2 linked regions of the Homo sapiens genome follow. The protein of the gene in region 2 purifies or fractionates together with the protein of the main gene of each other region. This does not show direct contact. Each region holds a gene or a part of one and is shown on either strand. Other genes may lie near its edges.

What was found.
Region 1: the proteins of BCORL1 (region 2) and SCMH1 purify together in Homo sapiens (affinity purification with mass spectrometry, with the first as the bait; one large-scale study listed by BioGRID). This does not show direct contact.

The regions. Positions count from the first base shown.
Region 1 is NC_000001.11:41,043,307-41,046,806, reverse strand, and holds part of SCMH1 (polycomb protein SCMH1), read left to right. Parts: intron 1-208; coding exon 209-400; intron 401-674; exon of another isoform or gene 675-1,094; intron 1,095-2,916; exon of another isoform or gene 2,917-3,500. UniProt on the Homo sapiens protein: Associates with Polycomb group (PcG) multiprotein complexes; the complex class is required to maintain the transcriptionally repressive state of some genes.
Region 2 is NC_000023.11:129,981,329-129,985,434, reverse strand, and holds the start of BCORL1 (BCL-6 corepressor-like protein 1), read right to left. Parts: upstream 2,801-4,106; 5' UTR 2,673-2,800; exon of another isoform or gene 2,545-2,672; intron 1,050-2,544; exon of another isoform or gene 1,006-1,049; intron 1-1,005. UniProt on the Homo sapiens protein: Transcriptional corepressor. May specifically inhibit gene expression when recruited to promoter regions by sequence-specific DNA-binding proteins such as BCL6.

The sequences.
Region 1 (3,500 bases), on a different chromosome or scaffold from region 2:
CCCATATTTGCAAGCCCTTTACAGTTGGAGGCAAAAATCAAAGCCCTCGAGGGAGGGAGTTAAAGGGAGGGAGGGAGGAAACGTGGGGCACTGATTCCCTTTGTGTAACCAGGTAAGCCTGAGACAAGCAGTGGGCTGGACTCGTCCTGCCTAGCGCTGTACTCCACTGCCAGGCTGACATGCTTGGCCCTGTTTACTCACTCCACAGCCGTGTTTGACCGGGAACAGCATACCCTCAACCTCCCAGCAGTCAACAGCATCACCTACGTCCTCCGCTTCCTGGAGAAACTCTGCCACAACCTTCGTAGTGACAATCTGTTTGGCAACCAGCCCTTTACACAGACTCACTTGTCACTCACTGCCATAGAGTACAGCCACAGCCACGACAGGTACCTACCAGGTAGGAGCTGGGATGGGGCCTGGGCTGAGAGTGGGGGACAGGGCTAGCAGCAGCACCTGCAGGGGCCCAGGGTCAGCCTTCAGAACTACTGGCCTGGCACCTACTATCTAGAGGTCTGCTTTTCTGTCCCTTACCTTTGCCATATCTGAGACTTCTCAGCCTCCTCTCATCTTTACTTTTTCTTCAGGATTTTGTTTTCTGTCTCTAGGATCACCCCTATTTCTTCTAGATCCTTATCCCTAGATAAAAGGTGGTTCGCAATTCCCCTTCTGAGTTTCAGACTGCATGTGGAGCCACCAAGAAGTCACAGAACGTCTCCCAGTGTGAACCTGGCAGCAAAGGCCTAACACACATCTCCCTTGCCAGCAGGAAGGTTTAGTCTCAGGCTACAGATTGAGAAATTTGCTCCCTGGTGATTGGCCATCTATTCTTTCCTTTGGCACATGGCCCTAACTTCCAGCACTGCCAGTCTAGCAAGTCAATTCAAGTTCCTGCTATTTCTAACTCGGCTGGAAAATAACTTTCTTAGTTAACATACCAGACCCACAATGGGAAAGCAGATGCCACGTGGCCAAATCAGTGACTAAGTACTTCCGAGAGAGATTAAAGATTCAATGGAACTCTGCGTCTCTCATCTGGAACCCAGGACACAGAACAAGGGAGGGAAGAAAAGCTCAGCCTTAAACATAGCAAGGTAGGTCATTACTGAGAGGGAGGAAAGGCCCTTAAAAAAGCCCTGCAGATTGTGTCCTGAGCAGAGAAATAGGGAGGGGTGCTGCCAGTGTGAGTGCTGTGCTGTCTGTTGATGGGAGGGCACAGGTCTGAAAGGTGTCTTTTCCGACCTTCCTCTACACAAACAAGTCTTGTTCCCACACTGCCTTCCCTGGTGTCTTTTCATCATAGTCTTAACAGAATCACCTCCGATAAAAGCACTGCTTCTAGAGAATGTGCCCAGGGAAGTGACTGTTCCCCCATTCTCCTTCCCCCTTTCCCTCATAGATACTTCTGTACCCAAATCCGTATTGCTTATGTGACTTGCAAGCAGGTCAAAAAGATACCTGAATTTTAAATACTCTGTGGGGGCCAGACCATCTGATCCCTGCAGCCATTTCTATGATCCCCTGGCTGATCCTTTTCTATGGAGGGAACTTCTCCTCACCTAACCCATGCTAGATTGCTTTCTTTCAGTACCAGAGTCTCTGAGAAAAGAAAAAGGCATTCTGACTTGCAGTTAGAATGTTGCACTGGGAGTCTGGACTGGGCATGGTAGAGCTGGTCCAGACAAAGGCAAGTTTTAAATACCTCCAGTTAGGCATTCAGGAACTCTGATCTACATTTCAGACGTGAAAGTTAGGCCTACCTGGGATTCTGAAAGAATGGATGCATGAATGGGGGTTAGCACATCCATGAATGTAGCTGCTAGTTTAAAAAGAGATTTCTCAAAGAAATAGGAACTCCGAATTCTTAAATGGAATGCCATCATTAAGAAGTGAGAGAAACATACTGGTAGCAGCATTCAGAGACTGGTAAGGATGTACCTCATGGGCCTGCAGTCCCAAAAGTGGTTTGGGACCGGGGCATGACCTTTCCTGGGAATTCTGCCCCAATTTACATCTCTCTGATTCAGCCACTAGATAAGAGGAAGCAAACTTTAGCCAGACTCTTCTTGCCTCACCAACTAAGAGAAACAAAGACCAAGGTATCACATTCTGCCATTAGCTGCTACCTCTCCCTTCCCCATTTTCAGACAGATTGAGCCCACTTTTTGTGTCCTCCTCTGCTCTTAAGCTGTTTCTCATCGTGGGTGCTCAGCAACTTGTCTGCTCTCACTCTAGTTTCTATTTGCTTCCCTGAAATTAGCCTTTAACTATGCCCAGACAAGCCAGAGCCTTGCCTAAACTTCTAATTCCTCTGTGCTTCTTAGTGTATCCTTTCTGCCTGCTTGCCTGCCTGCCTTCCTGCCTGCTTGCCTGCCTTACTGACCCTTTGCCCCACCTCTGATATTATCATTTCCTGTGTTTTTCTGATTACTTACCTAAACCTCTGCCAAAGAGCTCGATCTGTACAAGAGCTGTCTTTTGCTTTGCCCTTTGGATCTGGTATTTATGACTCCTGCCCTTCTGCCTGGCTACACGCTTCTGCTAGACATACATAGGTACCACCTCTGTTATCTGGGTGCTTACTGGCCCTCCCCCTTTCCTATATCCTTGTCTCCACACTACCCTACCACTTAGAGTCCTGGCCCAACTGACCATGCACTTCCGATATAGCAGGTAGTCACCCAAAGCTCAGGGAGATTTCATATCCCATTAAGCTTTCCTACCTAAGTTGAGACTACTACTTTTTTCTCCAATGTTTTATTTTAAAAATTTCAAACCTACAGAAAAGTTACAAAAATAGAACAATAAGCAACCATGAACTCTTTGCCTATCTTTACCACTTTTTGCAGTATTTACTTCGTCTGTTTCTCCTAACTATATATACACATATAAATATACATACTTGTTGAATACCTGTATATTTAAAATGTTTTTCATTTATTTACTGAACCATTTGAGAGTTAACTGCAGATGAGAGATTTTATCCTTAAATACTTTTGTGTTTATCTCCTAAGAATAAGGAACATAATAGTATTATTATGATTAAGAAATTTAACATAAATAAAAACTAATGAGGCCAGGCGCGGTGGCTCACACCTGTAATCCCAGCACTTTGAGAGCCTGAGGCGGGTGGATCGTGAGATCAGGAGATCAAGACTATCCTGGCTAACATGGTGAAACCCCATCTCTACTAAAAATACAAAAAAAAAAAAAAAAATTAGCCGGGCGTGGTGGCAGGCACCTGTAGTCCCAGCTACTCAGGAGGCTGAGGCAGGAGAATGGCGTGAACTCGGGAGGCGGAGCTTGCAGTGAGCAGCGATTGCGCCACTGCACTCCAGCCTGGGCGACAGAGCGAGACTCTGTCTCAAAAAAAAAAAAAACTAATGAAATTTAACATTAATAAAATACTACTAGGCCAGGTGCGGTGGCTCATGCCTGTAATCCCGGCACTGTGTGATGCCAAGGTGGGCAGATCACTTGAGGTCAGGAGTTCAAGACCA
Region 2 (4,106 bases):
TCATCTTTAGTACCACATGGTGACATCACCATTCAATTAAAGTACCCTAAACTGTGCACCAGACATCCTCCACTGTGCCATCTACCATCTTCCCCAAAATAAAGCTCCCTCAATTCCAACATTCAAGGACAGGACATATCAACAGAAAAGTAAATAACCTTAAAACTCCCTTCCAACCTTGAAATTTTATAATCAACCTAATCCACTCCCAACCCCAAATGCAATCCACATTTATTTTCCCATGTAACTCAACGGCGTGCTTTTGAGAAAGAGCCTTCTAAGTTGAAAGAACCACAGGGCTAACCACTGTAACGCTAACCTACAACTCATCTCCAGAAGTCTTACTGAAGATTTTTGCAATTGTACTCCACCTCTGTACCACAGGGACGACCTCCAAACTGCCTTAACAGTAGTCAAGCTGTGGCACAAAGTTACCGGGCCCCCTTCCCACACTAACGTAAAGAGCCTCTAAACCCTGGGCTAGATGCTTGCTCGCCAAAGGATGCCTGTCTTTACTGTCTACTCCAGGAGACACCAAGAATGAATATCACCCCATCGACAGTTTCGATCAGCCAACATTGAAAATTTCAAAACAATAAAACAAAAACATAGTGCTTCCACTCAGGGAGGGAGGAGGTGCGAGCGGAATAGAAGGGCACCCCCACGGGCCTGTGCTGTTGGCCTCCCGGGTTTGCAGTGTTTCCCTCCCACCTTTCCCCTCGACCACGTCTTTCCCTACAACAATCTCCCGCACCTCCATAACGCGAAATCCCCAGCCGAGGTGCGGCCGGCTCCTCCCAGCCTTGCCCCGGACGTCCCTCTGGCCCAGCCTTCCTCTCGGCGGGACCCCGGCGAGGAGGGCCCCCTCCACCGACCAGTTCACCTCCCTATCCCTTCCCCGGCCTCTTGGCGCCCCTGCAGGGCTCTGTCCCGAAACCGAACCTCGAGGAGCCAAGCCCACGAGGCCAGTCGCGGGACCCACACCCCCCTTCCTTCTCCCAGCACCTCGTCCTCCATGCACCCGGCCCCCGGGGCTCCTCGTCGTCGTCGTCCCGGCTCGTACCGCCCCCCGTCGGGGGCTCCACCCCCCCGCCTGCCCCCGCCCCCAGGACGGCCCCCTCCCCACCGCGCGCCGCCTGCGCCCTCTGCCCCGGCACGGGACTCTCTTTGGCCTCCGTTCCCCGCCCAGAAGCGGCGGCGGCGGCGGCGGCAACGGCTGCGGCGGCCCCAGCAGGAGCAGCAGCGGCGGCGGCGGCAGCGGCGGCGGCAGCAGCGCCGCCCCCGGCCCCGCCCCGCCGCCCGCCGGAGCCCCACGCCCCGCCCGCCCGCCCCGCCGCCGGACTGCTCCCCCCGAAGCCCACCACTAAGCCCTCCCACTCCCCGGCCGCGATCCGCTCGAATCCAGCTCCGCTGGGCCTGCTGTCCGTCCCTCACGCCCCTTAGGACCCGGGGTGGGGGAGCCCTGGGGTTCGCGGCCATCCCTCTCCCTCCTTCTCCAAGGGCCGGGGGATTGCCCCTGATCCCGAAACCCGGCCCCGTAACCGGAGCCTCCCTCCTTCCAGCCCTCGGCTTCGCTCGCCGACCCCTTGCCTCCAGGCCTGGCGCGAAGCGGGTGGAGGGCTTGCACGCCGGATCTCCCCTCTGGCTTGCCGGTGCTAGTATGAATTGCCCCCGATCTCATCTTCCTTCAATTTAAGCCCCCTCCCCGCCGCGCCCGGCCCGGCGGCCCCCGCCCCTAGAGCGAGGGCAGCGGAGCCAGGGCGCTCCGAAGTCATCCCCCGCCTTTTTTCCAGGGACTCGGATAATTGCCCCTGCCCCCATCACAGCACTCCCACTCCCGAACCCAGGCCCCGCCGCCACCTAGGGGTACCCCTTACCCTACGATTCCCGCACCCCAGCGCCGGGAAGAAAGCAGCCCTGAAGAGCACCCGTCGCACCTCCCCTCTGAGGTTGGAGGGCATTTTCTCCCGGTCTCTTCAACACTTCATCACGGACACCCCCCCCCCCCAAAAAAAAGCCTTTTCTCGCCCTGCCCTGCTAGCCAGCCTCCCTTCGGATCGTCGGATCCTTGGATCGGGGGTTGGAGTCAGGTAGTTAACAAGACCATAGCCTCCACCTCCCTTTCCGAGGAGTGGGGTAATTCCTATGGTTTCCCCCCCAGGATCAACCGACCCCCGTTTCCATGGAGACCCCCGCCCAGCCGGGAAGAAGACTCTCTTGGATCGTGGCGAACGAGTCTCACCTGGCTAAGAGAGAAGGGGGTCGAGAAGGGGGTAGGGCAAGTCAGGGGATGGGGTACGAAGGTGGGAAGTGGAAGGGAGCTGTCCCGAAGGGAGGGGCGAAGACATACCCAGCTCCAGGGAGCGCTACGTCCGGGGACACGAAGAGGACGGCGCCCCCGGGGGGCAAGCCGAGCGGCCGCAGGGAAAAGAAGGAACAGGGTTGGAGAAAGGCTTAAGATAGAAAGAAGCGGGTGGGGGGATACGAAAAAGCCGGGGAGTCAAAAGGGGTGGAGGGATTGGGGGAGAGAGAAAAAAGACGCACCTGTTCCCGGGTCGGCTCCGCGGGGAGGCTCAGGCCGCCACCCGGGCTCCCTCTTACTCCCTCTTAACCGCCACCCGCCTAATACTGCCCCGATCTGATGCCCCCCTCCGCCCCTTATCGCCACCGACCTCCTTCTCCTCTCTCTCGGCGGCGGCGGCGGTCGGACTCTAGGAACTGAGAGGAAGAAGGGAGGGCTCAGCAAAGCGGAGGAGAGACAGAGCCACACACTGGCAGCAGCCGCGGCGAGCGAAAGAGTGAGGGGGAGAGCGGTGTGTGTGTGTGTCTGTGTGCGAGCGAAGCCTGGTGGAGTGGGTGCCGGTCGCAGGGCTCGACGGGAAGTGGAGTCCGGCTGGGTCCGCGGGCGGCGCCAACCCCCGCTCCACCGGACTACAACTCCCAGAATGCGGCCTACGCGGGTGGGGGGGAATGGGGAGGAGGAGGCGAAGGGAGGGAGCGAGCAAGAGAGGGAGGGACGAAAGCAGGGAGCAAGCGGCGGCGAAGGGGGCAGAGCCAAGCAGCCCCGGTGACACTGGGAGGGGAGGAGAGGAGGAGGGGATCGCTGAGAGGACCGAGCGGATTCCGGAGAGGGAGGCAGCAGTGGCTGCAGCAAGCCGGGCAAAAAGCTAGACTCCTGGGAGAGGCGGAGGCGCTCAATCTGCGGGGCTGCAGGAGCCCCACGTCCCCCCCCACCTCGACGCCCCTCGAAGGGGGAGGTTGAGGAAGGGAGAGGGTCAGTGAGCCGCGGCCAAAGGGTTCTCTCTCTTTCTTCCAACGTTCTCCACCTTATGCCCCGACCTGACTTTCTCAGGCCACTGGTGCCGATCCAGTGTGCAAATCTCGAGACCCCAGATCTCCTCTGCCGGGCAGCGGAGAACAGACGCATTCAGTCCCCTTCTCCCAGGGGCCTGAGGGAGGCTCCCCTTGCAGGCAGGGCGTGACTCCCCCTTCTTCCCGCTCCCCCCCCCACCGTCGTCGCCACCCCCCCATCTCCCTCCCCGGAACCCCTCCCCTGAAGCCGGGGCTCGCCTCTCTCTCTCCCCGCCAAGACACGGAGTCCTTCTGGGGACGACTACCCAGCCCCCTCCCTTATACTGGGCCCCTACCCACCAGTATCCCCTTCTTAGCGTTGCCCCCTCACCGAAATAATGGTGGGGGCGACCCGAGTTGGACTGGTGGCTACTTTCCCTCCAAGGCTAGCCGTCCTTCGCCACGCCGACCCTGTGTAGAAATAGAGAAGCATATTAATACTCCCGTCCCCCCTCCCCCCCAGATTTGAATACCCGTGGAAGTGGCTCACAAGAAAGAGGGGTTGGTAGTGGAAGTGAGCTAGGGGTGAATCCCAATCTTCAAACCTCATCCCTCCCATGGAAATCCAGGTATTCGCCTTTTGCTTAAAAGCCATTAAATCGCTTGGGTGGGGGGTAAATTATCTAAACCCCAATGTCCATGCGACTCGAAGCGACGCTACCTTGTAGGAATAAGATACGAACTAGGTTGCCGCCACGGGAAGGAAAGTATCCCCCACCCCCGTCGCCGTCCACCCCCAAAAACACATACCCCTA